4 linked regions of the Homo sapiens genome follow. The protein of the gene in region 4 purifies or fractionates together with the protein of the main gene of each other region. This does not show direct contact. Each region holds a gene or a part of one and is shown on either strand. Other genes may lie near its edges. The genes, in order: ST7, MACO1, LSR and PCDHAC2.

The links.
Region 1: the proteins of PCDHAC2 (region 4) and ST7 purify together in Homo sapiens (co-immunoprecipitation; 3 studies listed by BioGRID and IntAct, with this or other methods). This does not show direct contact.
Region 2: the proteins of PCDHAC2 (region 4) and MACO1 purify together in Homo sapiens (co-immunoprecipitation; 3 studies listed by BioGRID and IntAct, with this or other methods). This does not show direct contact.
Region 3: the proteins of PCDHAC2 (region 4) and LSR purify together in Homo sapiens (co-immunoprecipitation; 3 studies listed by BioGRID and IntAct, with this or other methods). This does not show direct contact.

The regions. Positions count from the first base shown.
Region 1 is NC_000007.14:116,949,245-116,956,509, reverse strand, and holds the start of ST7 (suppressor of tumorigenicity 7 protein), read right to left. Parts: upstream 3,010-7,265; 5' UTR 2,970-3,009; coding exon 2,819-2,969; exon of another isoform or gene 2,176-2,818; intron 2,050-2,175; exon of another isoform or gene 1,831-2,049; intron 1,537-1,830; exon of another isoform or gene 1,357-1,536; intron 88-1,356; exon of another isoform or gene 1-87. UniProt on the Homo sapiens protein: May act as a tumor suppressor.
Region 2 is NC_000001.11:25,426,051-25,433,918, reverse strand, and holds the start of MACO1 (macoilin), read right to left. Parts: upstream 3,023-7,868; 5' UTR 2,821-3,022; coding exon 2,741-2,820; intron 1-2,740. Other genes in the region: RHCE (blood group Rh(CE) polypeptide), read left to right, coding at 3,727-3,979. UniProt on the Homo sapiens protein: Plays a role in the regulation of neuronal activity.
Region 3 is NC_000019.10:35,244,580-35,252,012, reverse strand, and holds the start of LSR (lipolysis-stimulated lipoprotein receptor isoform 2 precursor), read right to left. Parts: upstream 3,012-7,433; 5' UTR 2,991-3,011; coding exon 2,882-2,990; intron 1,699-2,881; coding exon 1,354-1,698; intron 1-1,353. UniProt on the Homo sapiens protein: Probable role in the clearance of triglyceride-rich lipoprotein from blood. Binds chylomicrons, LDL and VLDL in presence of free fatty acids and allows their subsequent uptake in the cells.
Region 4 is NC_000005.10:140,969,456-140,976,477, reverse strand, and holds part of PCDHAC2 (protocadherin alpha-C2 isoform 1 precursor), read right to left. Parts: exon of another isoform or gene 6,998-7,022; intron 1-6,997. UniProt on the Homo sapiens protein: Potential calcium-dependent cell-adhesion protein. May be involved in the establishment and maintenance of specific neuronal connections in the brain.

The sequences.
Region 1 (7,265 bases), on a different chromosome or scaffold from region 4:
CTGCAACTCCCTAAAAGCAGCTCCAGATTCAGTAACCTCTCCAGGAACACACTTGCCTTCATCACAGGAAGAGTAAGCACCACAGGGCTGAAGAACAGCAAAGTTAGTCCCGTTAGAACTCTTTTAGACCTCCCTGCAAGGACAAGTTAGACCAGGCTAGCTCCTGCCTCCCCTCTCAGGGGTGCTGGCTAATGACTTCTTTCTCCCTGGGCCTTCCTTGCCAATAACTTCAGTACAGAAACTTTTTCCCAAAGGGGAGGGGAATTGGCAAGGAAAGGAGGGAATTAAGTTGACAACAACCTTTTGGCAGTTTTCCTACTATAACTTCTCACTGTTACTTAAAAGGGAAGAAAATAGGCCTCTAATGTCTGCAACTGTTTTTTGAAAAACCTAAACTGTTCTAGGGTGGTTTGTGGCTATAATTTCATGTCTCAAAATTAATGCCAAAGTCCTCCTCCCACCCCAGATCCTGCTACCCTCTCATAAAAACAGCAGAGAGGTGAGTGCTCTCTGTGTGCTTCCCCTTTTATCTTTCTTTATGACTGAAATGAGCATGAAACCAAACTGAAAAGTCCAGCATCATCAGGTCTTCTATCATGTGTCTAGCAAGGTACAGCCCGGATGGCACGTTCATCTTCATATTTTCGCTATCTCTTAGAACTGCCCCTACACAAATTAACAAAGGCATCTCTGAGAAATGCTAGATTTAAATTGCTAGAAGACCTAACAATGCCCTTCCTTAAGAAGTACACATTTTCCCAGTAGATATTTTGCTTCTTGCCTGATCTGCACAGAGCACTGGATGTGACACTTACACATATATACATGGGTAATTATTTAACCTGATGAAAATGTGATATACAAATGTATATCATGAAATAAAATTTTAAGTGTGTAATAAGGAGAAACATTAATATTTTAAAAACTAGTGTGTTTGAAAATCCCAAGTGCAAAAGTGTTGAAAGGTGGGACCTGTGAGTGGTAATTAGGTCATGAAGGCTCTGCCTTCAAGAATGAATTAATTTTGTTATTGAGGGAGTAGGTTTGTTATAAAAGTGAAAGTGGGCCCCCTCTTGTTTTCTCATGTTCTCTTACCCTTCCACCTTCCACCAAGGGATGACAGCAAGAAGGACCTCCCCACATGCCAGTCCCTTGATCTCAAGACTTCCCTGACTCCTGAACTACAAGAAATAAAATGTGTTCTTTAAAAATTACCCAATCTGTGGTATTCTGTTACAGCAGCACAAAACAGACTAACACTGTTACCAACAAATACGTAATTCCATTAAAACATATATTCAAACAACTTCTTAAAGGTATAGAACTTTGAGACCAGAAGGTATCCTGGAGACATACTTGTCTAAAGCGAAGAAGACAATATTGCGACAAGCAGCCATCCAAAAAGATGAAAAGCGAGAAAGCCATGGTCTTTCCGATGACAGACTCAAAAGGGCTGAGCAGCACCTATTCAAATGGTGAGACAATTCTAGAGTGCTGAATCCTATCCGCCTCCCAGGGACACGATCCCGAGGGATACTACAAAACAAATGTAAATATGAACATGAGTTCAAGTTAGTAATCAAAATACTTAAGTTAGTATCTGAAAGGTACAAGTTTCCTAACAAAATGAGTACATTATCTCAAGCGTTTTAAAAAGCGTTTTAATGCAGCTAAACACCTGAGGAAAATGCATTTCCAGACTTGCACTCCCAGAGTATGGAGATTAACAAGGGAAGATATATATGTGTACATATGTATATATCTTCAGGACTGTAAGAATTTCCCAGTACTGTGAAATTAAAATTTAAAACAAAAACAAAAACACTCTACCTTGAAATTTCCAGATTTAAAGGACTGTAACCCTTAGCTCGAAATTTACTTTGTGTTTCGGAACTCTCTGGAGTGTTAAGGCTCGTGTGTTTTCTTTGCGGGTGTTTTTTTAACGACTCAGTGGGCTGGCTCCAAGTTTGTGAAGATCCTGTTAATTACCTCCTGCATTTACCACCGACCAAGGATGGGAGGCACGCGGCACTTGCTGAGCATATGTAGCTTTACAGGGAAGGGAGACGAGCAAAGATCACTGAAAACTGCAACCGAAACCCTCAGAAATTCCAGCTCTCCCCTCTTCCCTCCGGTCCCTTCGACAATCCATTTGGTGACCTGACACGTCATCCATACACTCCCAAGAGTGCCTTCGGGAACCCCTCTCCCCACTACCCAACCAGAGAGACAGCCCCACGCCCGGCAAGACGCAACTCCGGGCCACGGAGGGCGCCGCCCGGACAGCCCGGCCGGGTCAGGGGGCTTCGCCGCCGAGCACCCTCCGGCAGCCGCCCTCGGGCCTCCGCGGCCGGGCGGGAGGGCGCCTCCCCGACCACACTTCGGCCGCTTGGCACCCACAGCCGGGAGGGCGTGAGGAAGGACTCGGTCTAACTCCGGGGAACCCTCGGAGTTCCGGCGCAGACACCCGAGGGGGTGTCCTGGGAACTCCTTCGCCCGCGACACCCGTTCTTCTCCGTCTCCCGACCACCAGCGACGCAGCAGGGCGGCTGCCGGCCCGGCCCGGCCCGCCTTGCGGGCTGTGCGCGGCGCAGCTCTTCCTCCGCGGGGCCGTGAAGGCCACCGGCCGCCCCCGCGCGCCCAGCTGCCCGGCCCCGCCGCCTAAGCCGCCGCGTTGCTGGCGGGTAGCCGCGGGCCTCCGGTGCGCGGGCCCCGGCGCGTCCCCGAGCGCGCGCCTGGCCGCGGCCCCGCGCGAGTTGCACTAACTTTCCGGGGCGGGGGAGGGGTGGGCGCCGCGGGCCCGGCTCCCAGGCCTTACCTGTGCTCAAGTTGTCGTTGATTTTCAAAGGCACCCGCAGGATGTAGACCAGGAATAGCACGATGAAGAACCACACGGTCCACAGATACGTCCAAGACCAAACTATGCAGGACTTGAGCTGCTCCAGAAAGCCCGTGGCCGCTTCAGCCATGTTTCAGCGCTCCTCTCTGCTGCCGCGGCTCTTGGTGTCTGCCGGGATGATTCACCGGCCCGGAGGCGCAGCTCGCGCCGCCGCCGCCGCCGCGGCCCGGGCGCCCCCGGAGCCCGCCCGCCGCCGGGGACGCGGGCTCGGCGGGAAATCGCGCGGGCCGCGGGCGCGCCGGCTTTTCCTTCTCCAGCCTTATTGCTAACTCTCTAAAGGTCCCTACAAGTGGCTTTCGTGGAGCGATCACGTGGCCCCTGCCCCCTCGCGTTCTGGGTCCATTTATATTTATTATGCTAATATTTAGAAAGAGAAGGCCAAGTGGCGCGCCGAAGGAAACGCCTCAGGCAGTTACAACCCGCATAAGTTGAGCGTTTACCACACGCCAGGCGCTGCTCCACGATCCGTACAATCTCATTTAACCCCTGCAACAATTCCCCACTACGATCCTCTTTCTATAGGTAGGGAAACTGAGGCTCACAGCAGCTGCGTAGTTTACCTTAAGGTGGAACCAAAATTCAATTGCAGTGGTGTATTCTGGGGTCCGAGGTCTTAAACCCTACTCTGCTCCCTTATCAGGATTCAGGCTCAGGGAATGAATAAACCCGGGACAGCTAGGAGAAGGGAGGAGGTGCGCTCCTGTCGCCGGCTAGTAGGCCTGAAGATAAATCACTCTATTCAGCAAGATTTGGGTGGCAGATGCTATTTACCTTTGTTCTGTCTCTTTGAAGCAGCGCAGGGATTTTCCAGAGAAATCTTGACAGATGAATGTTTATCCTCCAGGTTTTTTGGTGATCAGAGGTCAAACTATTCTCAGCCTGTTTTTAATATAAACAATTCTCTGGGATAATTTTGACTGTGAAACGGCCACCTCTAACAGAAAGTCCATTTTAAACATTGTTTTGTTGTTTTTGTTTTGTTTTGACTGTGCTGAATAAAATGTTTCTTTTATTCTAAAATGTTTTCTCAGCTGAAATTTTCAAGTCTGTTTCTGTCCGTAAGTGATTTGACTTTCTATGTATTAGATGGTAATGAGGAAATTGCAGGTTTTCCAGTCTACATCTATTTTTAAAATTCTGAGCATAAAGAATATTTTATTATAAATTGTTTTGCTTACTTGTATAATAGTTTCCTTCATAATTAAATAAGCTCCTTTAACTTTTCACATATAGGGCCTATTACGGCATACATAATGGATGGAACTACTCTTAAATTTTTACTAATTCCAGCCTCTCTCGGCTACTGTTTCTTCCTCACATTTGATCTACTACAGTGAGATCCAGGCCAGAATAAGTGAAATTGGCACACATAGACTTTCTTTATAGTTATTTATGGCAGCACATGACCAAATGATTTTTGTGTCTAACACTGATACATGGAATCTCAGTAAAATAAAACAATATTGTCACCAGTAAAGGATCGTGACTGCAGGTTGTCCAGGTTCTTGGCGTTTTGAACAAAGAATTGGACAAAACACCCAGAGAAGCGACAAAAGAACGAAAGCAGGGATTTATTGAAAACGAAAGTACACTCTACATTGTGGGAGCGGGCGGAGCAGCGGCTCAAAGGCCGAATACAGAATCTTCTTGGGTCCAAATACCCCCAAGAAGTTTCCCTTTGGCAACTCATGCTCATCTCACGTAAATGAAGTGGTAGCCCGCAATCAGTCTGACTGGTTGCAGAAAGCAGCCAACCAGAGGCTGAAATGAAGATACAAAGGTAACACTCCTGTGCAAACATCTGATTGGTTGCAAAAAACAACCAATCAGAGGCTGGGATGTACTTAATGAAGTTATGCTTCTATGCAAACGAAGACTCGCCCACAGTCTGATTAGTTGTGGACAACAACCATTCAGAGGCTGGAGTGAAGTTACAAAGTTGCAAATGAAGATTGGACCCGCAGTCAGTCTGATTGGTTACAGACAGCCAATTTCCCATCTACTAGGCAGAAAAGGTCAAAGGTAGCCTCTGGTCCTTTTGTTACTTAGGCGTGGAAAGTTAGGGTTTTCCTTTCAATGTAGTTCAAGGAAGTCCTTAGTTTCCCTGCCTCCAGAACCTAGTCTCCTGCCTCAACATGAGTACATGAACCACCTATTTTATGTGATGATTAAATAACCCACCAGATTCTCTGCGAGTCACTGAATTAGGATATTGACTACTTAATTTAAATGAACATCCGGAGGCCTGGCTTTTTGCTGTCAATGAACTTCAATGAATGGACATGAATATGACTCCGCTAAGTCACAATCTTCTAATTTTCTACTAGGCGCTCCTGGGAAGTCAGCCCTATATCATTGCCTCTCCTGGTGTGCATCCTGGCATGTGGTGGGGACTGTACACATGCCTTTGTGCTTCAAAACACTTCAAAACAGAAGTGAGTAAGCATAATCTCTTGCAAACTGTGGCTGCTTCAGTATAGCTGGAGTGCAGCCTCTGCAGAGTGGTGTGGATACAGACAAAGCTAAAGATACAGGCCTGAGTCATTTTGAAGGGCCTACTAGAAACGCTAAGGTGTTCATAGTTATGGGGCATTGCACACACCAATCCAAATGACCAACTCAGAGATTTATTTAAGTGGAGATTTAAGAAATATTAAGGAAGTAGATGGCTCACGCCTGTAATCCCAAAACTTTGGGAGGCCGAGGTGGGAGAATCACTTGAGTCTAGGAGTTTGAGAACAGCACAGGCAACACAAGGAGACCTTGTCTGTACAAAAAGATTTTAAAAATTAGCTGGGTGTGGTGGTGTGTGCCTGTACTACCAGCTACTCAGGAGGCTGAGGTTGGAGGATCACTGGAGCCTGAGAGTTTGAGGCTTTAGTGAGCTGTTATTGTGCCAGTCACTCCAGGGTGAGACCTTGTCGAAAGAAAGAGAGAAAGAGAGAGGAAGGAAGGGAGGGAGGGAGGAGGGAGGAGGGAGGAAGGAAGGAAGGAAGGAAGGAAGGAAGGAAGGAAGGAAGGAAAAGGGGAAGGGAAGGGGAGCGAGAGAAAGGAAAGATAGAGAAAGAAAAGAAAGGAAGAAAGAAGAAAGAAGGAAGGAGAGAGAGAAAGAAGAAAAAGAAAGGAAAGAAGGAGGAAGAGAAAAAGGGGAAGGGGAGAGAAAGGAAGGGGAAAGAAAGAAAGAAAGGGAGAGAAAGAAAGAAGAAAGAGAAAAGGAAGGAAGAAAGAAAGAAAGAGGGAGAGGGGGAAGGGAAGGAGGGAGGGAGGCGGGGAGAAGGGGAAGAAGGGAAGAAAGAGGCAGAGAGAGAAAAATAAAGGGAAGGAAGGAGTGAAGGAAGGAGAGAAGGAAGGGAGGAAGGAAGGGAGGGGAGGCAGAAGTGACAGGCCTTGGTGACTGATAAGACAGGCAGGGCAGGCCTGGCGCAGTGACTCACGCCTGTAATCCCAGCACTCCTTGGGAGGCTGAGGCAGGCAGATCACTTGAGGTCAGGAGTTTGAGACCAGCCTGGCCAATATGGTGAAACCCTGTCTCTACTAAAAATACAAAAATCAGCCGGGCATGGTGGCACGCACCTGTAGTCCCAGCTACTCGGGAGGCTGGGGTAGGAGAACTGCTTGAACCTAGGAGGTGGAGGTTGCAGTGAGCCGATATTGCACCATTGCACTCCAGCCTGGGTGTAGCAGTGAGATTCTGCCTCACACACACACACAAAAAAAAACAGGCAGAGCACGGATAAGGGGGGGGCTCTTGAGTGGGACCGTTAATGAAATAATGACACCCCAGATATGCCTAACTACCTCTTGATAATCACCCAGTGGAATGGCACACAATCACCAAGCTCATCACATGCAGAATGGAATGCATTACCTCTTCACCCTCATCTGTTCCTTTTAGAGTTCCATCAAGGAATGGGCACCATCCTTCCAGTTCCCTAATTCAGAAATCTGAGCATCATGTACCTCCTTTCCTCTCTATATTCCACTGTACATCAAGACTCAGGCCGCCACTTCTCTCAGCCTTTGGTGATAGCCTGATCATCATTCATAGAGAACAAGGCAGTGGGCTCCCTGCCTCTATTTGCACCACGGCAAGCACCACCACTGCCTCCTTCCATCCACTTTCCACACTTCTCTACCAGTTACCTTTTAAAGCACAAATCCGATAACTCGTTCCTTGCATAAAATTATTTAAGGCCCCACCCCTACTGCACTCCTACTTTTATCCCAGTGTCTAACTAAAGGATGGAATCTAGATGGTATTCAGGCCTTCTGCAAGGGCACTTCTGCCTACCTTAATAGCACCAGCATTTTGGCAAACATGCTATTCTCTTTCACACTTTTGGACCTGCTCCACACAACCTGCCTG
Region 2 (7,868 bases), on a different chromosome or scaffold from region 4:
ACCAAATCTTACAGTATTTCCTGCCTCCTTAAAAAATTAACCACACGTTAAACTGTGATAGCAACAACATGGTAAATAGTATCTGTAAACTACACTAGGATTTATAAAGCATTTCACAAACTGTACATATCTCCTTTAGTCCTCAAAACTCATTTGAAGGTGGGAGAACTGGGGCTCAAAGCTGTGGATGCCCTGTCTGCCTAAAGCAGCAGAGCTGGGATTTTGAGTCTGATCCTGGGTCTCCTGATTCCTGCAGTCCAGTGCGCTTTTCACCACAGCTGCCTCCTTCCTATGCCAAGGCTCAGAAAGTTGTACAGACTGAGAACATGAAAATAGTAAGTCCATGAAAGGTTTGGCTATGAAACAGTAGACAGTGGTTATCAAAACTGTCAACACGGCCCCAGAAAAAAAACAAGGCTCTCTGTTTAATGAATCCAAAATTGGCCACATGTTGTTGAGAAACAAAATGGGCAATAGATGGTGTGAAAAACAACTTAGCATAGACTTAAATTTGATGATCACCAGAAATTTGATATTCATGAATCCTCAAGCATTCTAGTTTATAACCAGTCCACTCATCCTGTTTGCTTTAGAAATAACAGGAAATTTTTCTAAATCTCTTTAAAAACAGAATTGGGCAAAAAAAAAAAAATCTTGTTCTTCAGTCCAATACTCCATAATATAAACCAAGAAACAGATAAGTGAGTTGAAACGCTCATTTGATATATGATACTCCAACCAGGAAAGACAGTTAGAAATACATTTAGGTCTTTTATTAACATTTAACTTAAAGAATGCAAAACAGAGAAGCATAAGAAGATTTAAGGCTAATGCACTGTCGGTTTTTAAAATTTTGCAGATGAACCTCTGAATAACTTGCAAAGAGTATTTACAATTAACCTTTAGGGTAAGAAAATTCAAATTTCAAAAGCCATCAGTAAGATGATAAATCTTCATTAAACGATGAATTCACTTCTTCACATCGATTCACACTGAGTAGCTATTATGGCGCAGGTTGTAAACTGGGTCTATTTGTTCAAGTACAGAGAAATGGAAATACAGCAGAAAACACGTAAACAATATGGGACTCTCAATCTTCTTGCTATAAATGGAGGTACATCATCTTATGTTACTGTAAATAGCAGCTATTCAAATGCCACAGTTGTGCTAAGTCTACCAACTCGGTTTAATATCCCTTTCCTATTTTTATGTTACCATTAATGTTAAGTTGGTCAAATATTTTTCAATAGCCAAAGGGGAAAAACTTTCTTTAATTCAAGAATGTATAGTGTATGTAACGTGAATTGAAGAGACCTTTCCTCCATCTATGTGTAGAAAAAATTGTTTGCTTTCACAGTTCAAGTTAAAATGGTCAAGTTCGATTCATCCAGCATAGATTAGAGTCTGTTTTACTCACTGCTCTATCTTCACTGATTAGAAATGTTCCTGGCACATAGTATATATAACTGATGAATGAATGAATTACTCCTATGCTCTATGGCTCATTTTATAAGAATATACCCAAGAAATTTTTACTTTGATTCCTTAATGCTTTTAAACTTGAAGAAAATCCCCAGTGTTTACATCAGTCAGCTGCTTGTGGAAAGCAATCATTCCACATCTGTAAACAAGAGCATGTGCAAGGTGTACAGTTATGTTAAGACAACTTGGGTGTCATCAGCTACCTCACATATTTCTTGAAATCCCACAGCTAGAGAAGCTAATTGTAAAACACCATGAGGACTCAATTAAGCCTACATCCACATGCTGAGAATTCTTCTTTGTAAACTAATTACTTCTCCACCGAAATCTGTATCAAGGCAAATACCATTTACAAGTAACATTCTGAGAAGAACCAGAAAATAACAGTCGTACACAAATCGACTTGGGGAAGCTATGATAGTAAGTTGCCCCATGAACCTGTTGTCTTTCTCTACCGGTGGACTGAATTCAATTTCTATTTAAAGGGACACTGCTTTTCTTGCGGATGAAAAAAAAAAAAAAGAGTTTGGAGAAAATCCCTTTTTAAAAACGTTCAAAGCAAGCTATCTGCTTGGAATTGTCAAAACAATATTTGCTGAAAAACTGGTCATCAGACCCTTCCGAATCTGGAGCAGGGCCACAGGGCATGATTTGGGGGTATCAGCTTCAGCCCTGGGTGCCAAGTTTGAGATCCCATATGGGAAGCAGAAGGTGAAAGAAGTGACAGCATGGCCCCAGGCCAGTATGCTGGCAGCTTGGGGGAACGAGGGGCCACAGTGGGCTCTCAACTTTGTCAGCCTCCCCCACCCCCCCGCGCTGTGGTCCACGCGCCTCCTGGCTCCGGCCGGCAAGCCCCCAGGCCACCGGGGGGCTCGGGGGCCAGCGGCGGCCAGTCAGAGGTCCCGGAAGCGGCCCTCCCGGCCCAGCGGCATGGCCGGGATGCTGAGGAACGCCGGGCTGGTTGGGGGCTCTCCGCCCCTCCCCCCGGCGGGCCCGGCGCTTCCAACGGCGGCGCGGCGGCTCCCTCAGCCAGCGCCCGCCGCGCCCTGCCCGCCCGGCCGGGCCGACCCTCGCCACGCCCCGCGCACCCGGGGCGGACCCCGGCGGGCGGGCCAGCGGCTCCGGGGCCAGCGCTCCTTAGGAGAGCCCCCGGCGCGGGCGTGCGGCCTACTCGGGGTTACATAACGGGGCCAGGCCCCTCGGAGCTGGAGGGGGACCGCAGGGCCCGCGCCCGCGGAGTGGGGGTGCAGCCGCTCACCTGCCGTAAATGCCCTCGGTGATCCGGTTCCGCTTTAGGGGGCGGCGGAGCTTACTGCAGTCGGCGTTCCGCCGCTTCATCCTCCCGCTGGGGGGCCGGGTGCCCGCGCCGCCGCCGCCGTCTCTCACCTCAGCTGCCGCCGCCGCTGGCCCGCCCCGCGTCGGGCCTGGACTCTACCCCTGAGGCCGGTCACACAGACATGGAGCCAGCACCCGGGGGGAGGGGGTAGCACGGGGAGGGGGGGCTCGGAGCCTCCTCCGCCTTCGGAAACAAAGAAATGACAATTCCGGGGCCCGCCCGCCCAGCACCAGCCAGCCGCCTGCCCCGCCTCCTCGGCTCCGACGGACGGCCCGGGAGGCCAATAGAAGCCACCGGTAAACCGCTGTCGGCCAATCCCAGGGCCCGCTGAGGCAAAACTGACTCTAGAACCCGCCCCTTTGAAGGACGGAAGAATGCGCCAATCATTATAGTGTCTGGGTCCCCGGCTGAGCCTATCAGAAAAGATTTAAATAGAGGCTTATAAATAGGCCCTATAAATATAACATCCTATATTACGCCTTGTTGCGAAGGTATGCTTTATTATTATTGGGTTGCGTTTCATTGTATTGTAATCCCTACTAGAGCATACCGTACGGCATGGCATTGTAGGCTCTCGTCTAGCAATGTATGAAATCGGAAGGCCCGGGTTTGCGGCATGTGCGGTGTCTGCGCTGACGTGCGCTTCAGCCAGTCGCGTCATTATGTAAGGGAGCATCCCAGGAACAGCGCCGGGGACCCTTCTGCGGATGCTGGAGAGCTCGGCCAGGCCGACCGCGTCAGCGCGCACCGGGGGTACGAATGACAAAGCAAACCCCACACGCACACAGACACACACCCTGCCAGCTTCCCGCGACGTGGTGACAGCGCGCCGGCCAATCGGAGGTGGCGGCCCCGCCCCGGGTTACGCCACGGGGCGGAGCCGTGGGGGCGCGCGACGTAGCGCAGAGATGCCCGGGGCGTGTGCGGCGGTGCGGCCCGGGCTCCACGTCCACAGGCTGGGCAGCGCTGTGGGCCCCGCGGGCGCCGAGTCCGCAGGACCCGCGAGGGCACTACCGCGAAGCATCGGCCTCCGGGCCGGGCCGGGCCGGACCGGGAGCCTGCTCGGCGGGTCCGGGCTCCTGCAAGGCGGGGACGCGGGGCCGGCGACCCTTCACGCTTCGTACTCATTGAGCGCCGATTTTATGCCAGGCACCGTGCTGGGTAATTTGCGTGTATTTGCTCATTTACTCCTTATAACTCCCCTGCCACGTACGTATGGCAAAGTAACACTTAGAAAAGTCCGCATGGTGTTTTTTTTTAAGAGAAATAAAAAGAATGTTTATCATTAGAGAAAACTGGGGAAAATGTAGGAAAGTGGCCGAAAAGGAAAAAACACCAATGAGTCTCATCACATTAACACAAATACAGTTGACATTTTATTGTATTTGCTTGTTTTCCAATTTTCCCCTATGGATGATAATGTTACTATTGCTATTAAATAGAATAGTGGTCATACTAGAATAGTAGTCATACTAGAATAGTAGTCATACTGTTTTTAACATAAGCATTTTTACATGTTTTAATGCAGCTTTTATAAATATTTCTGAAAATATTGCAGAATGTCCTATCCAGTAGCTTTATCAGTGTAATCCCTCAACGACAATGGGGCAGTTAGTCTTCCAGTGCATTTTTAAAACTTCCCAGGAAGGGCTGGGCGCGGTGGCTCACGCCTGTAATCCCAGCACTTTGGGAGGCCGAGGCGGGTAGATCACGAGGTCAGGAGATCGGAGACCATCCTGGATAACATGGTGAAACCCCATCTCTACTAAAAATACAAAAAATTAGCTGGGCATGGTGGCGGGCACCTGTAGTCCCAGCTACTCGAGAGGCTGAGGCAGGAGAGCGAGACTTTGTCTCAAAAAAAAAAAAAAAAAAAAAACTTCCCAGGAAGTAGATGCCATTTTGTTTTGTCCTGGGTTTCACAGAACTCTCTCTGGCCTGTAATCACCCCTCCCTTAATCAACATCTACCCCAGGGAGAAACTTTACACCAAATGCGTTGTCCTCAATCATGACTCTGTGTTACTTTCTTCTGCTCACAAACCTTCAAAGATCTCCCAGTGCCTGGAAGAGAAAACCCATTCTGTTTCGAAGGGCATCCAGAGCTGGTCACAGTGGGGACCCACCCTCCTTTTCCAGGCTACGCCAGGCAAGCAAACCGTTTTTCTCACTATCCTTAAATCCACTGCAACCGATCTTTCCCCCTTCCTGCCTCTGCCCCAACACAGTATCTCTGTCAGTGCCGCTTCTGGTGTGTGGTTTCTTAGGCAAGGCTTATCCATCCACTTAGGCAAAAAGCTTCTTGGAGATCAAATCTATACCCTGCAGAGATACAGTTAAGAAAAATGGCCAAAGTACTTGCTTTTTCAGAGTAGGGCTGAAATTCTAGCTTGGCCACTTACTAGCTTGGACAAGTTACTAAATCTCTCACAGTCTGTTTCCACTCAGGTTTGTTTTAAGGCTTGGAGGACAATGAGCCTTCAGAGCCAGACAAGCAGTAGGTAACAGAAAGTAACTGCTGTTAGCAGTATACTTGTTTCTCATGCCTTAATTCTACTTCAGTATATTGATCAAGTGGCACCGGGTGGCCAAGAAAACAAACTCTGTGAGCTCAAAGTTTCACCAAGGCCTGCCCATCATTGAGAAAGGATATGAACAGAATGCTATGTGTGGAGCAGTAGAAAAAAGCCTTCAGCTGCCAAGGCAGATTGGTTCACTGAGGAAGATACAGGTGGGAACCAAATCAAAATGGAAGCTTAAAGGCGTTGGGGAGCGCAGGAACAGGTACATGGTAAAGTCCGGGCTCCAGCCTCCATGGGAACCCCAGACTTGAATATCCCTCATCCCCATGACTGCAGTGTTCCAGATTACCTGGGCCAGAGACTAAGTGGGATGGTTAGATGAGTAAGCCAAAGAAAAGATGAGAGGCACTGGGGACACATGCCAGCTTTCTGAGGCTCACTGTCTAGCCTACTATTAAATAGACCCTGACAGGGCATCTCATGCTGTGGCAAAAGTGCGGAGTGGCTGGGAGCAATGGAGGTTGTGGCTGAGAGTTACTGTTGAGCTCTAGGACTATGTGGAAGCAGAGAAAGGGCAGAGAAAATCTGAGGGTGATGGCTGACAAACAATCTGAAGGTCTGGAGGTCTAAGTTCCAATCCCAATTCACATGGCAACTCACTAGTGTCCTTGGTTGAGTCACCAGCCCACCCTGTGCCAAGATCTCCTCTGGAGGTGGTGCTTCTAGTTCTATGTTTAGAAGCAGATTGTGCTAGCTCCATTTTACAAATGAGAAAACTGAGGCTGAGAGGAAACAAGGTCACATAATAGGTGTGGTAGAGCAATCTAGCTCAAAGCACAAGCTGAGCAAGCTGTGGTGCCTGTATATAGCTATTGATGGGTAGAGTTGGGGTGAGATGATGGGAATGGCCTTCTTGCCAAGACCCAAGGAGAGGCCAGAGCAGGACTGCCCATCTCCATACTCTTCCTCTTTCACTCCTCCAGACCCAGCTCTTTTTTCCATGACCCACTCTAGCACAAGCCCTTTTGGCTCCAGCCAAGTGCCAGCCTTTTTCCTCTGAGTCCTGAAATGGCCCTTTGGGATTCTAAGGGCACAGAAGTGGGCCTCCTGCCAGAAGGCCCCAGCTCCCCACACCTTCACCAGTCAGGAAGCAGAGATCAGCAGTGGCCATTTTACAAATGAGTGAAACAAGGAAGGGAAGTAATTTGCCCTCATTCAAAAGACCAAGGCCTACAGAGGAATTTAGGCTTGTCCCTCCTTCTGGGACTTTCTGATGAAGGGATTTGCACTTGGGCTTCAGCTGAGCCCAGAACAGCTCTAGAGGCCAGATCATTAAACCCTGTTTCACATATAAGGAAATGGTATTCCCACCTCTGTCAGCCCGTTCAATCCCCGCAAGCCCACTAGCTGTCTTGAGCTTTGTTCCTGCCCTGTAAGAATCACAGAAAAGTCCAAACATTTCGATGGCCACCTCTTAACACATGTACCTGTATCCCCTAGAGAAACCTATTTTTTTTTTTTTTGAGATGGAGTCTTGCTCTGTCACCCAGGCTGGAGTGCAGTGGTGCATTCTCAGCTCACTGCAATCTCTGCCTCCTGGGTTCAAGTGATTCTCCTGCCTCAGCCTCCAGAGTAGCTGAGACTATAGGCACACGCCACCACGCCTGGATAATTTTTGTGTTTTTAGTAGAAATGGGGTTTTGCCATGTTAGCCAGGCTGGTCTCAAACTCCTGACCTTAGGTGATCCACCTGCCTTGGCCTCCCAAAGTGCTGGGGTTACAGGCGTGAGACACCACACCAGGCCAGAACCATGTTAATGGAAGATGTTCACTGTAGTGTTTAGAACAGGGCTAGTTTGGGAGAGGACTGACCAAACACTTTATCACATATCCTTACCATGGAAGTCAGTGTGGCATGGAGGATGATTATACACAGCACTAACTATGGCAGCCGCCACTCCAAGTATCAGATACATTTTGTTTTAATCCTCACAACAATCCTATGAGATAGAGATTACTAGCACCATATTACAGATGAGGACACTGTGGCACAGAGGAGTTAAGGCACTTGCCTAAGGTCACATAGTAACAGAGTTGGGAATTCAAATCCAGGCAGTCTGCTTTCAGTGCCTGGGCTCTTTAACCACCATGTTATATTGTTGTAGAAAGATTTTCCTGGCTTGGAAACTGCTTATGATATAGAGTTCATGAAAATAGCAAGTTACCAAACAGTATGTGCTGTGTAATCCCATTTTTGTAGGGAGAAAAACAAGGCCTAAATCGACAGGAATAGAAAAACATCTGAAAGGATATACACTCAAAACATAGTGCTGGTTTTTGGAGAGACTGAAATGGACATTTTATGTTAGCTTTATGCATCTGTATTTTCAAAGTTTCTACAGTAAACTTGCCAAGCTTGTGTGATAATCATAATTGCTAACATTTATGGAGTGTTTTCTACACATCTGACACTTTATGCACTGCCTCGTTGAATCTTCACAACAACCCAGTGAGATTGACACTGATTTT
Region 3 (7,433 bases), on a different chromosome or scaffold from region 4:
AATACAAAAAATTAGCCGGGCGTAGTGGCGGGCGCCTGTAGTCCCAGCTACTTGGGAGGCTGAGGCAGGAGAATGGCGTGAACCCGGGAGGCGGAGCTTGCAGTGAGCCGAGATCCCGCCACTGCACTCCAGCCTGGGCGACAGAGCGAGACTCCGTCTCAAAAAAAAAGAACAAGGTTCTCAGGGCTGCCTGGGTTCAAACCCCAGCTCCAGACTTTGACTTCCTATGCACCCATTTGAACAAGGTAACCTCTCTGTGCCTCAGCTGTCAGGAGGGTAGAGGAGAGGACTCAATGGGAGAATATGTGTGCAGTTCCTGGCATGTCACAGGCTTTCTCCATTAAGCTCTCTTGCCCCTGCAGTTCACTCCTGCCATCTCCTCTGTGAGTCCTCTGCGGACCACCCTAGGCAAGCAAAGGGATTAGGAGCTTGGCCACTAGACCCAAAGTGGCTGAGTTAGAATCCCAGCCCCGTTACCAGCTATGACACTAGGCAAGTCACTTTCTCTCTCTGGGCCTCTGTAAGATGACAATGATAGAATCTATTCAATTACTGTGTGGTCTGAGTTAATCCTTGGGAACCTGGATGAGAGCTTAGCACACAGTAGACCCTTTATAAGTTGTTACTTAGATAAATTTTACTTCTTACTGCTCGTGTTATTAATGATTATAGAACAAACCCTGGCCTCTTCTCTCCGTTACCCAGTTTTCTTTATCTTCAAGGACTTGAGAGTGTGTGTCGTGTTTGTCTCTCTCACTGCAATGTGGGCTCCACGAGGGAAGTGGTTTGATGATTTTGTTAACAGCTGTATTCCCAGGGCCCAGAACAGCACCTGGTATATGACAGGTACTCAAAAAATCTTCGTTATTAAATTAAAGAATGGAAGGATTAGCAGAAGGAAGAATAGTAGAATAGAATCGCTCCCTTTAGGCTGGGTATGGTGTCTCTCAGCACTTTGCGAGGCCAAGGCGGGCAGATCATTTGAGGTCAGGAGTTTGAGACCAGCCTGGCCAACATGGTGAAACCCCATCTCTACTAAAAATACAAAAATTAACTGGGCGTGGTGGCACGCACCTGGAGTCCCAGCTACTCGGGAGGCTGAGGCAAGAGAATTGCTTGAACCTGGGAGGTGGAGGTTGCAGTGAGCTGAGATCGCACCACTGCACTCCAGCCTGGAGTCCAGAGCAAGACTCCATCTTCAAAAAAAAAAAAAAAAAGAATTGCTCCCTTCAATGGTCCTTTCAGACACTGGCACTCAAGAGCTTTCAGATGGGGACTCCAGGTCCCGCACAAGGACGCCAGTCCCACCACCCGGGCAAGCCCAGCCTCATCCCCCTGCCCTGCCCAACATACTTCCGGTGATGGTAATCCTCCGGCCCTGGTAGTAATCTCCCAGGGTCACAGCGTTGCCCTGCTTGGTGGCCACGACCCTGACGGTGCGCACGCTGTCCTGGCACTCAACGTAGGGGTTGTAGCCTGGGTTCCCGGCTGCCAGCTGGGCATTGAGCTGGTTGTCGACGCTGGCCGGGGAGAAGGCATCGGCGATGCGGTCCCGGCAGAAAGACTTGTACTTCCAGATGACGATGGGTTGCGTGGGGGTCGAGGTCATCTGGTAGGTACAGGGCAGGGTCACAGGCTGGAAGAGGATCACCACGTGGTAGGGGTTGGACACGGTCACCTGGATGGCCCTGGCAGGAGCTGAGGGCAAGAGGAGAGACAGCAAGGGTTGCTGTGAGCTCAGGGAGGTGCTTCAACAGGAACGCCACCTGTCACCAGCTTGACACTCGCAAGTATGTGGTTTACAGAGTGCCTGGCACACATTGTTCCTTAATTGCCAGGACCAGTGAGGTAGCCACGATAATCATGCCCATTTTATAGACCCGTGGGGCTGAAGTGGCAGGTGCACGGTGACACGGCCAGTTTCCTTGGACTCGCCCGCCATCCCTCTTCCCAGCCTGTGGCCTCTGAACCACACCAGTCCCCTCTTCCCTTTGCCATTCACCCACAACAAGGGGCCTCTGTGTGGCCTGGGCAGGCAAGCCCAGATGGCCATGTTGATGCCCCCAGCGCCCAAGGCCCCACTTCAAAACCGACTACGAAGGATTCCAGGTTACCCGGGGCCTTTTGAATTTGGAGGGAAAACCATGGAGTTGTTTGCCTGAACTGCTTTGCCATGGAGGGACTAAAGCCCCCACAATATCTCCATCAGCCTCCCACCACCTCACCCTACTCTAAAGTCATTTCAAATGACTGAACCAAAAGTGTCTCGGGAAAGACCTCATCACCACCCAAATATCCCATCCAGGTGAAAGCCTGCCAGCAGAAGTCGGTTTCAAGTCCGTAAATCCATCCCACCAGACTCTTACGCACGTATAATCCGGAGCCCGCGGGAGGTGGGTGGGGTGCGGGGGATGGGGAGTCCCCAGTCCCACACCCACCCGAGGCCTAGGCATTGTTCCTTCGTCTCTGTCCCTCTAGGAAGCGTCTGATCCAGCCCTCCCGTGCCCTCTCCCCGTTACTCCAAAACTTAGAAATCCCCGGGTGCGCCCAAGTCCCATCCCGGCTTTTCTTTTCCCAGAGATCGGGCGGTCTTCCACTCCCTCCCCACAAAGAGTTCCATTCTCCCTGCCGCTCCGGGTCTCACCGTCCAGGGAGTTTCACTTCCTGCTATCTTCCAGATAAGGGCGCGGGGAGCGCTCCCCGGCACAAATGGGGAATTCCTCTCACTCCCGCGCGCAACAGATCGCCCAAGACCCAGGGGATCGGAAGGTCCCAGCCTCTGAGACCCCCGCTTCCCGCTTCCCGCCGCCTCCAACTCCATCCATCCCCCTCTACAGTTCCCTCCGGCGTTCCGCAGCGTCAGAGGCCCCGTGCCCCGTACCTGTGCACCAGGTGCTAAGCAGAAGCCACACGAAGACGACCGCGTCCCGGCCTGCGGCGGCCGGGTGGGAGCCCAGCCCTCTGGAGAGCCCGCCGGCCAACAGCGCCATCGCGGCCGTCTGGGCGCGTCTGGCCCGCGCGTCCCTTCCAAAGTACCTTAGGGGGCGCGGCGCGCACCAAGGCCAGGAGGGGTGCACGCTCCTCCCCTTCCCACTTCCGTTCCTTGTCCCTACTCCAAGTCCGTCCTGTTGCATTCTGGAAGTTTTAATGAGCGTAAACGACGTGGACAAAGGGCATGCTTTCAGATATGGGGGAGAAAGGTGCTTGACCCGCCGCGGTCCTCCGAGCCACACTCCACCCGCTGCGCGCTCCGGTGAATGGTTCGGCCCAGGTACACAAGGGTGGGAGCCGAGGGCTGGGCTTAGGGGTGAGCGGCGGGGAGGGGTTCCTCTGCCTCCCTCCCCGGAAGTGGGCTGACCCAGGTGCGCTCCGTCCCCCAGGGCCCGAACCAAGTGACTGGCCCGCTGGGAGGGCGCCTGCGGACCACAGGTCCCTTCCGGCCCCCATCTGCTCCGGCCAAACCAAGCGCACCGAGATCCATGCAACCGAGACCCACTTGGAGCGATTCACCTGTTGAGATAGGGCGGGTCCCGCCGCGCACCTGTTCCCTCCCTGCCCAAACCCCTCTCCCCGGCTGGCGATGGACCCGCCTAGGTGCGCCCTGCCGGGAGGAGCGAGTCTAAGCAAAGTCCTGGCTGGGAGAGGCTTGTTGGTGGCGCCTGACTTCTCCACTTCCACTGGGGTTCCTCCGGACCGGGTGGAGGGGGGGCGCTTCGGGCCTCCTGTGTCTCCCAGTTAGATGACCTGAGGAACCCTCTAAAGTCCCCGGAAGGGAAGCTCTGCCCCCTCAGGGATGCCCAAGGGGAATCAGGGCCAGGAAAAGTTGGAATTCCACTTCGGAAGTTTTCGCCACCTCCCCCACCCGTTCCCAACTTGTGGTTCGGCCCCTGGGCATCCCTAGCCCCCGGGTCAGCCCTCCGGAAATTCTGGCTCTTAAAGGGGCCGAGCGAAGGCGCGGGGCTTGGGACCGGTTTCCGCTTAGGAATTCCCGGAACGAGCCACCTGCGACCGAGGGCGGGGGCGCGGCGCGGCGATCAGCCTGCGCAGCGCTGGGCGTGACTCTGCTGTCTCCAGGTGGCGGCGAGGGAAAGCGCATCCTGGGGGAACCCTGGGCGCTTCCTCGCGTTAGACTCCCCCAGGTTGCCAACTGGCCAGTGGCTGGTTTCGGTACCCAGGCGTGCTTTGTTCTACTGGCCCTGTTAAAACTCAAGCCAGATCACGTCCACCTGCTCACAGCCCTCCTGTGGCTCCTCCTCACTCTCAGCAGAAACTGACCTTCCCCCTCTTATCTCACCTCCTCCCACTCTCTCTGGCTTACTCAGCTTCGGACACCCTGGCCTCCTCGCTGTTTCCAACTATACTTCTCACAGTCCTCAGAGCCATCGCCCGTGCTACTCCCTCTGCCAGAACACCCTTCCCGCAGATGTCCACATGATCTTCCTCCTCCTGTAGGACACCATTGCAGTGACACCTTCCCTGGCCACTTTTTATAAAATTTCAACCCGTTCACGTCCCTTCATCGTTTAAAAAAATATTTTTATGATAAAATATGCAAACTATAATATTTATCGCTTTAACCACTTCAAGTGTAAAATTCAGTGGCATTAAGTATATTCACAATGTCGTGTACCAATCACCACTCTTTATCCCCGAAACTGTTTCATCATCCCCAACATAAACTCTGTGACCATTAAACAGTAACTCCCCATTCCCTGCTACCTGTGCCCCTAGTAATTTCTATTCTACTTTGCTTACCAAATTGCCCATTCTAGGTGCCTCATATAAGTGGAATCGTCTAACATTTGTCCTGTGTCTAGTTTATTTCACAAAGAATAATGTTTTCAAGGTCCATCCATGTTGTAGTATGTCGAAGCCATGTAGCATGCAGTAAGATCAAAATTTCTTTTTACAGCGGACTAGTGTACCATTGTATGTATATGCTACGTTTTATTTATCCATTCATTTGTGGATGGACCTAGGTTGTTTCTACCTTTTGACTATTGTAAATAGTGCAGCTGTGAACACTGGTGTACAAATATCTGCTTTCATTTCTTTTGAATATATGCCTAAGAATGGAATTGCTGGGTGACTTGGTAGTTCTATTTTTAACCTTTTGAGGAACTGCCAAACTGTTTTCCCCAATGACTGCACTATTGTACATTCCCACCAGCAATGCACGGAGGATTCCAATTTCTCCACATCCCCACCAAAACTTATTATCCATTTTCTTGATTATGGCCATCCTGGTTAGTGTGAAGTGGCATCTCATTGTGGTTGTAATCTGCATTTCCCCAATGACTAACGATGTTGAGCATATTTCCACGAATTTATTGTCCATTAGTATATCTTCTTTGGAGAAGTGTCTATTCAAGTACTTTGCCCATTTTTGAATTGGGTTGTTTGTTTTTTTGTTGTCAAGTTGTAGGAGTTCTATATATATTTTGAATATTAATCCCTTGTTAGATATATGATCTGCAAATATTTTCTTCCATTCTCCAGGTTTTTTCACTTTCTTGATAGTGTCCTTTGGTGCACAAAAGTTCTTAATTTGATGAAGTTCAATTTACCTACTATTTTTTCTTCCTTGTACTTTTGGTATCCTATTTATGCAGTTGTTGCCAAGTCCAATGTGATGAAGATTTTCAACAATATTTTCTTCTAAGAGTTTTATAGTTTTAACTCTTAAATTGAGTCTTTGAGCCACTTTATTTTATTTCATTTTATTTTTTGAGACTGAGTCTCACTTTGTCGCCCAGGTTGGAGTGCAGTGGTGTGATCTCCGCTTACTGCAACCTCCACCTGCCGGGTTCAACCGATTCTCATGCCTCAGCCTCCCGAGTATTTGGGATTACAGGTGCATGCCACCACACTGGGTTAATTTTTGTATTTTTAGAAGAGATGGGGTTTCACCATGTTGGCCAGGCTGGTCTCGAACTCCTGACCTCAAGTAATCTACCTGCCTTGGCTTCCCAAAGTGCTCACATAGGTGTGAGCCACTGCACCCGGCCTGGGCCATTTTAATTTTAGTATGTGGTAGAAGGGTCCAACTTCATTTTTTTGCATATGGATATTCAGTTTTCCCTCTACCATTTGTTGAAAACACTGTCCTTTTCCCATTAAGTGGTCTTGGCTTCCTTGTCAAAAATCAATTAATCATATATGTGAGGGTTTGTTTCTCGGTTCTGTATTCTATTTCATTGATCTATACGCCTATCCTTATGCAAGTACCATATGTTTTAATTACTATAGCTCTGTAGTAAGTTCACAGATGGAAAGTGTGAGTCCTCTAACTTTATTCTTCTCTTTCAGTATTGTTTTGGTTATTGGGGGCCCCTTAAAACTCCATATGAATTTGAGGATCTGCTTCCATTTCTTTGGGAAAAGACGTTGGAATTTTGATCAGCATTGTGTTGAATCTGTAGATTGTTTTGGGTAGTATTGACATTTTTAATGTTAAGTCTTTCTATCCATGAACACATCTTGCCATTTATGCCATTTATTTAGATACTTGTTAATTTATTTTATCAATCTTTTTTTTTTTTTTTTTTTTTTTTTGAGACTGAGTCTTGCTCTGTCACCCAGGCTGGAGTGCAGTGGCCCAATCTCAGCTCACTGCAAGCTCCGCCTCCCAGGTTCACGCCATTCTCCTGCCTCAGCCTCCTGAGTAGCTGGGACTACAGGCGCCCACCACCACGCCCGGCTAATTTTTTGTAGTTTTAGTAGAGATGGGGTTTCATCGTGTTAGCCAGGATGGTCTCGATCTCCTGACCTCGTGATCCGCCCGCCTCGGCCTTCCAAAGTGCTGGGATTACAGGCTTGAGCCACCGTGCCAGGCCTTATTTTAGCAATCTTTTGTCATTTTCAGTGTACAAGTCTTTCACCTCATTGGTTAGATTTATTCCTAAGTATTTAATTGTTTTAGATGCTGTTGTAAATGAAATTGTTTTCTCAATTTCCTCTTCGGATTGTTCAGTGCTGGTGCATAGAAACATGACTGATTTTTGTGTGTTGATCTGGTACCCTGCAACTTGTTTATTAACTGTAGTAGCTGTCTTGTGAATTCTTTTGGATTTTCTATACATAGATCGTGTCATCTGTGAATAGAGATAGTTTTACTGCTTTCTTTCCAATCTGAATGACTTTTATTTCCTTTTTCTGTCTGATAGCTCTGGGTGGAACTTCCAATACAGTGTTCAATAGCCATGGTGAAAATGGCCATCTTTGTCTTACTCCTGATCTTAGGGGGAAAGCTTTCAATCTTTCACCATTGAGTATGATGATAGCTGTGAGTTTTTCATAAATACCCTTTATCACATTGAGGAATTTTCCCTGTATGATTAGTTTTCTGTTTTTTTTTTTTTAATCATGAAGGTGTGTTGAATTTTGTCAAATACCTTTTCTGTATTAATTCAGATGATCATGTGTGTGTTTTT
Region 4 (7,022 bases):
CCGGATTCAAGCAATTCTTCTTCCCCAGCCTCCCTAGTAGCTGGGATTACAGGCATCTGCCACCGTACCTGGCTAATTTTTGAATTTTTAGTAGAGATGGGGTTTCACCATGTTGGCCAGGCTGGTCTTGAACACCTGACCTCAGGCAATCCACCCTCCTCGGCCTCCCAAAGTGCTGGGATTACAGGCTTGAGCCACTGTGCCTTGCCAAAAGTCTGTGTTTTAAATAAATTTACATGAAATGACATATATTTTTCTTCTTTCTCTTTTTTACTTCTGAGTTTCCAGGATATTGATTTAAAACAATACAAAACTAAAAGTAGTAAAATGTACATGAGTTTCATCCAGAACTTGATTAAACTTGGAAAAATTCAAGTTGAAAAGTTGACTACTGATATATCTGACACAGTAAGACATATATTACTATCACAATTTCAATCACAGTTGAAATAACTGTGATTATTTAGTTCTTTAATACTTAGATGGTACCTCCCAGGACTATGCTTACTTTCTATTGGTGAAGAACTCTAATATGTCCTATTGCTTCAAAGGTTAGTCTTTTGGTAGAATAATGGTCACAAAACTCCATATGTGGAAAAAATCAATTAGGTAGTCCATATGGGTGATGTAGTATTACTGAAGAATAAGAATACACTTCAGTTCCTATTAAAATTATAAAAAAGATTTAATTTATCTTGTAATGGTATTATCTGTGATTTATGACATAGAATATTTGAGCTACAGAAGGATGAATCACCTCTTCTAAGATTTAAAGTAAAATAAGTTTAAAATACCCTATTTTATTAATAAACTCACACAACTACTCAATGAAATAATATGCTATCTTCGTACCATGGAAATCCATGTGGAAGACATCAACAAATTGCCCTCTGGGACATGAGACTGCATATAATATCTCCTTTTCCTTCCTAATAGGACTGTATTAAGAATATATCCACTGCAGATTTTGCATAGTGCTATTTTATGAACATTGATATAAACTGATAGGCAGAATTCCAAGATGGCCCCAAGATCCCTATATCCTGGTGTGCACACCCTGAATAGTCTCCAAGACTGTGATTGTGATGGATCTTATTCCCATGATTACATTATGCTATGTAGCACAGTTGGCTTTAAGAAAGGGAGATCATCTGGATGGGACTGACATAATCACATGAGCTCTTTAAATCTGGGTCTAGAGGTCAGAGACAGAAATCAGAGAGATCTGAAGCATAAGAGGGATTCCATGTGAGGGAAGATTCTCCAGTGCCAGCCATGAAGATGGAGCAGACCATGGGACAAGAGTCCTGAGTCCTCAGTTCTCTAGGAACTGAGAGTGACCCCAGGCCAATAGTAAGTAGGAAAACAGAGATCTCAGTCCCCAAACAACTGGATTCTGCCAACAATCTGAATGAGCTCGATAGTAGATTCTTCCTAAGAGCCTGCAAAGGACAACACAGCCCAGCTGTGTTCATTTCAGCCTTGAGAATACCTGAGCGGACAACTCAGCCACATGGTACAGGACTGTGAGATAACAAATAGGTGGTGTTTTAAACAACTTACTTGTGGTAATTTGTTACAAATCATCAGAAAAGGGATACATAGACTGTTCCGCATTAAGGCAAAAGGGAATATAACATTTAAAATAATCATTATGTTGCATATTGGTCTTCTAGTATATCAAAATGAGGGCTGGGCGCAGTGGCTCATACCTGTAATCCCAGCACTTTGGGAGGCCAAGGTGGAGACAGGAGTTCGAGAGCAGCTTGAACAACATGGTGAAACCCAAAAATACAAAATTAGCCAGGCATGGTGGCGCATGCCTGTAATCTCAGCTACTCGGGAGGTTGAGGCAGGAGAATCGCTTGAACCCTGGAGGCAGAGGTTGCAGTGAGCCAAGATCATGCCATTGCACTCCAGCCTGGGCAACAAGAGCAAAACTCCGTCTCAAAAAAACTAAAATAAAATAAAACACAAAGGTAATACATTTGAGAATTCTGGGTGGAATACTTTCCTCTGAATGTAGTCATTTAAAATGCTAATTTACAAACCAGGAAAGTAAAATAAACATAACTTTAGAACATACCTAATGGGTTCCAGTACAACAGAAAGTGCTAGGTCTGTTTAGTTCTGGATGCATAGCCTGCTAGCACAGCAGCTACTCTCTCACTCACAGTTGTACCTCCTTGGAGCCCAGAGTTCTGACCCTGGAAGGCCAGAAAGGAACTGATGGTGCTTATATGCCAAGGAACTAAGATTTCTCTTTACCTTTGCAATGTTGGATATTCCTTTGCATTTGTCAAGTTAAAATTCTTGAAAGAAAAACCCTTGTATAGTTTTCAGGTTAGCAGATTTAAAACACTGCAAAAGAATACTTTTAACCTTTGATTTTTGAAGTCATGGTTATAGATTATACTGCTCCAAATATTATCATATTAATAAGCTAAATTTATAGTTGTATTATCACATGCACAAAACATTGATCCAGGTGAAGTTCTGTAAAAGCCACATTTAAAGACACCTGTAAAATGCCATCATATTCAGCTAAACCTCTGGGTTTGGTGACAGGAATGTTTCCTCAAACATTTGCAAATTGACATTATTCTGACCTCTCATTGAGAGCAAAAATTGGTAGGCAACAAGCAAGTACCCAGAACTGACTTTGCTATTCTGTCAAGTAGACAGCATGCCAATAGGCAACCTATAATATGCCAGGCTGTGTCCCTGCAGAGTGTTCTGAGTTAGACCAGATGCCCATGTGATGGCTCACTCCTGGGTCAGAAGGAAACAGTAGGCCAATGACATTCAAGCTACAATAAATAGATTTCTTCTTCAGTCAGAATGTGTACAAGATACAGAAACAGAGAAGAGCTCAGCCATAATTCCATCTGGCTCAGCAGTCTGTAGAAAAATTGAGGAAAGAGGTAATTGAAATAAATTATTGTATCATCAGACCAAAGAAAATAAACTTTTTCTCAGAAGAAGAGTCCTGTGACCAATATGAAATTTGCAAACTAAAACAGCCCCAGTCATTATAAAGTGACCATCAGAGGATGAAAAACTGGAGTGGAAGCTCATAGATATGATTTCTTTGTCTATTCTGACCATTGTGCAATTTTTATAAATTCACTACTATGTCACTTTACAACGAGTGTAAACTCTGTTCCAGGATAGAGTCATCAGATAGAAAAATCAGTGCTGGGGGAAATAAAAGTAGGTGCCACTGAAAGAAGAATTAACTCTTTCAGGTCACTATACCTGGAATTAGGGTGAATATGCACACATAGTGGCAGAAATAACTGAAGGTTTGGTGACTACAAATTGCTTTAAAATAAGTGAAAGTGAATGCAAACTTAATTCATCTCTGCTACTCTTTCATAATTTCTACATGTTGTGCCAGCTGGGCCCACTGAGACACTGTTGGACAAATCTACTAGAGTACTCAAAGTGACTCATTAACAATCACAACACCACGACCACAAATGCACAGAATCTACCTTAAGATTTGGTTTCCTTTGCCGGGCATGGTGGCTCACATCTGTAATCCCAGCACTTTGGGAGGCCAAGGCGGGTGGATCACAAGGTCAAGAGATCGAGACCATCCTGGACAACATGATGAAACCCCATCTCTACTAAAAATACAAAAATTAGCCAGGCGTGGTGGCGCGTGCCTGTAATCTCAGCTACTCAGGAGGCTGAGGCAGAAGAATCACTTTAACTTGGGAGGCGGAGGTTGCAGTGAGCCGGGATTACGCCACTGCACTCCAGCCTGGCAACAGAGTGAGACTCCATCTCAAAAAAAAAAAAAAAAAAAAAATTTGGTTTCTTTTTATGGAGACTCTGAAGGGAGTGCCAACAACATTCAGTATCAAGTTCAGAAATTTCCAAAGAGAAATTCTGCCCTATTGCCAAATAGTTACTTCAGAATCCTCACTGCACAAGTGATTTATGAAATAAGCTCACTGGGGGTAAAATCTACCAACAGATTAGAGTCTGGGGTTAAATGCTGATGTTTAATAAGCAACAAGAGAAAAATCAGTGAAATAATAAAAATAAAAGATCTTAACAGGGTTTGCCAATAGTGAAGCAAATAAACAAATACAAATATACTAACAGCATGTGCAACATAGTGAGACCCCCATCTCTTCCAAAAAAAAAAAACACCTAAAAACTAGTCAGACACGGTGGCGCACATCTATGGTCCAAGCTACTCAGGAGGCTGATGTGTGAGGATTGCTTGAGCCCAGAAGGTCGAGGCTGCAGTGAGCCATATTCACACCTATACTCCAGCCTGGGTGACAGGCCAAGACTCTGTCTCAAAAAAATAAAAATAAAAAAATAGTAGTAACTCACTGATATTCCCATTTGTTACCTGCTTCTATGCCAGAAATTACTCTTTTTCCAAAAGCAGTTAATATATACGACTAGGTGAATTAGTGATAGCTTAAATGCCTGAATATCCCATATAAAAGGGAATATAAACATTGGAACTTCTGTCTACTCATAGTATTGAAAAAAAGTTTTTGGAGTCAGATGGATACAACTTAAAATAACACTAGCAGTGTGGCTGTGTAGATTACCTAACCTCCCTGAGCTTATTTCCTCATATGCTAGATGTTAACAAATATTTAACGCATGACTTGCAGGTAATGAAATCATATATGTATTCAATATTATAATATTCAATATATTGAATAATCTTGAATAATATTCAAGATTCAGTAATATGAGATATATGTATGTGTATATGTATGATATACATATATCTATATAGCAGGGTGGTTAGTGAGTACAAATTCCCTTACTCTTCCTCTCTAATTCCCATCTACTTTTAATGTAGGCACATGGTACTAATTGTACCCCAGGACTCTCCTGCCATCTGTAGTAACTAGGTAGGAAAAAAAGAAAGCCCAACATGGGAATTTAACAGGTTGATCTGGCAATGATGACTTTCAGAACTGAGTGGCTTTTGCTCCTATCTTGCCACACTGTAACAATGTGACACTCTCTCCCTATAACTGCAAAAATTTCTGGAGCTGTAGATCTTGGGGTTCTTCACTGGATTTCCAAAAGTGCCTGGCAGAAATTTGCCTTTATTAAAGTCATGCACTCTCCTGGCAAAATCTCCCAAAAGCAAGCACTTTCTGAAATAATTTTCTCCCTAGATTAAATGTTTGTGTACCAAAGTACATATTAATATACAGGTCAGTGTAAGACAGAAATAGTTTATGTATCAAATTGCCCCAAGCTTTGAGTCAGGAGAGGGAGGGTAACAGTGTCTTTCCTCTGAGCTTCCGGCTTACAGCTGGTGGCAAAGCTGAGCCTGGCCTGACTTGTTCATGCCTCTTCACCACCTGTAGCCCACCCCAATCCCAAAGGGCTTCACAAGAATTTGTTAAGCAAATGTCTACAGCAACCTTATTTAAAGCTAAACCCTTTTACGTGCTTTCAAATGCTACGATCTAAAGACTTCTGGAAACTCTTTGATTTATTCCCCCATTTTTCTTAATCTACAATCTGCCTCCCATGGTTTCTCAGCATTGACTAACACCAGGCACTTCTGATAAATGAATAAATCTATCTGAAATGTCCATGAGAAAAATCTACTCTCAATCAGGAATGGAACTTTTGTGCCTGTGCATTACATTCCTCAAGATTACCATGAACTTGAAATGTAACAATATGGATATTACATACAATATGTATGTACAGCAATATGTCAATGAAAATATATTGCAAAAAATAGAGGAGAGACAAATATTGTTCACACATTGTGTAGTAGCTCTAAAAGCCCTTTCTACAAAGTAGTTATTTGGAAAGATAACAATTCATCACTATTTATGGTACAAAATTTTGGCTTTTGAAATCCAAGTTTTAAGTATCACAAAGCATATCTCTGTTATTTCAAGCATACATATGGAGACGAACACACAACACAAACACACACACATATTCATCTACTTTCTAATAATTTATGTACATTCTTCATAATAATGAACAAGCTGGCCTTATACCTACTTAAATCTCAAAACTAGTGCATATACTAACACCTGCCTCTACACCTTACTGTAGGGTAAGCCATCCACTTTCCAAGCCAGCCTTTTGAAGCTATAGCAAATCAAATTTTAGATCCAGAAAATGAATGCATGCTTTGGAAGTACTGTCATTTAACTTAAAGACATGAAGGACTTGAAAAGGCTACTTTACATCTCATCAAAACCATAGAAACTGTCAACAGAAAATCAGAAGATTACAGGCTGCATTTAAGCTAAATTCAGGGAAATCCTCTTACAATGAATTCAGAGTATGCCAAGAAAGGTGACTATTGGGAGAATTCTTTTTCCCTTCTCTTCCTTCTAATCCCAGCTTCTCTTGGTCTTCACCATCCCCCCACACCCCTAATCCACTCATTCTAATACCTCCCTGGACCAACCAGACAAATTGGTACTTAATCTCTCTGCCTCACCATCATCCACTCCCTCTGACAGCCCTCTACAGAAGAGTTGCCACATCATACAGCCAAAGCAAACTTTAGCTTCAGTATGATGTCTAAATACTACAGCTTTATCACTTGTGACATGCATTTCCAGAGGATCCTATCACATAGGTTCAGTGCAAGTACCAGAAATATTAACTAGATAATTTCCACTGTAGACAGTCCAGAGTATAAACAGAGACAGCAGATAGTGGTGACTATGATAGCCCCTAGAGGCCTCAGAGCTTTTTAAGAAACATCACTCATATAGGATTTCAAAAGAAAAATTTCCCTGTAGATGATACAGCAGAGGCCATTTCTCCTTGAGTCTCATAACATTACTCCCTAAAACATAATCCCTATTCCAAGGCCTGTCCTGTTTCTCTACAAATCTGTGTTTTAGCATTAAATATTAAGACTAATCCTCACTTCTCAAACAATTTTATGGACAAGGCTTCATGCCTCTGAAAATGAAAAATAAAACAATTCTTTAGTGCTATTTTTCTAGAGAGGAAATAGCAGATTATGATCAAATTGTGGATACTAT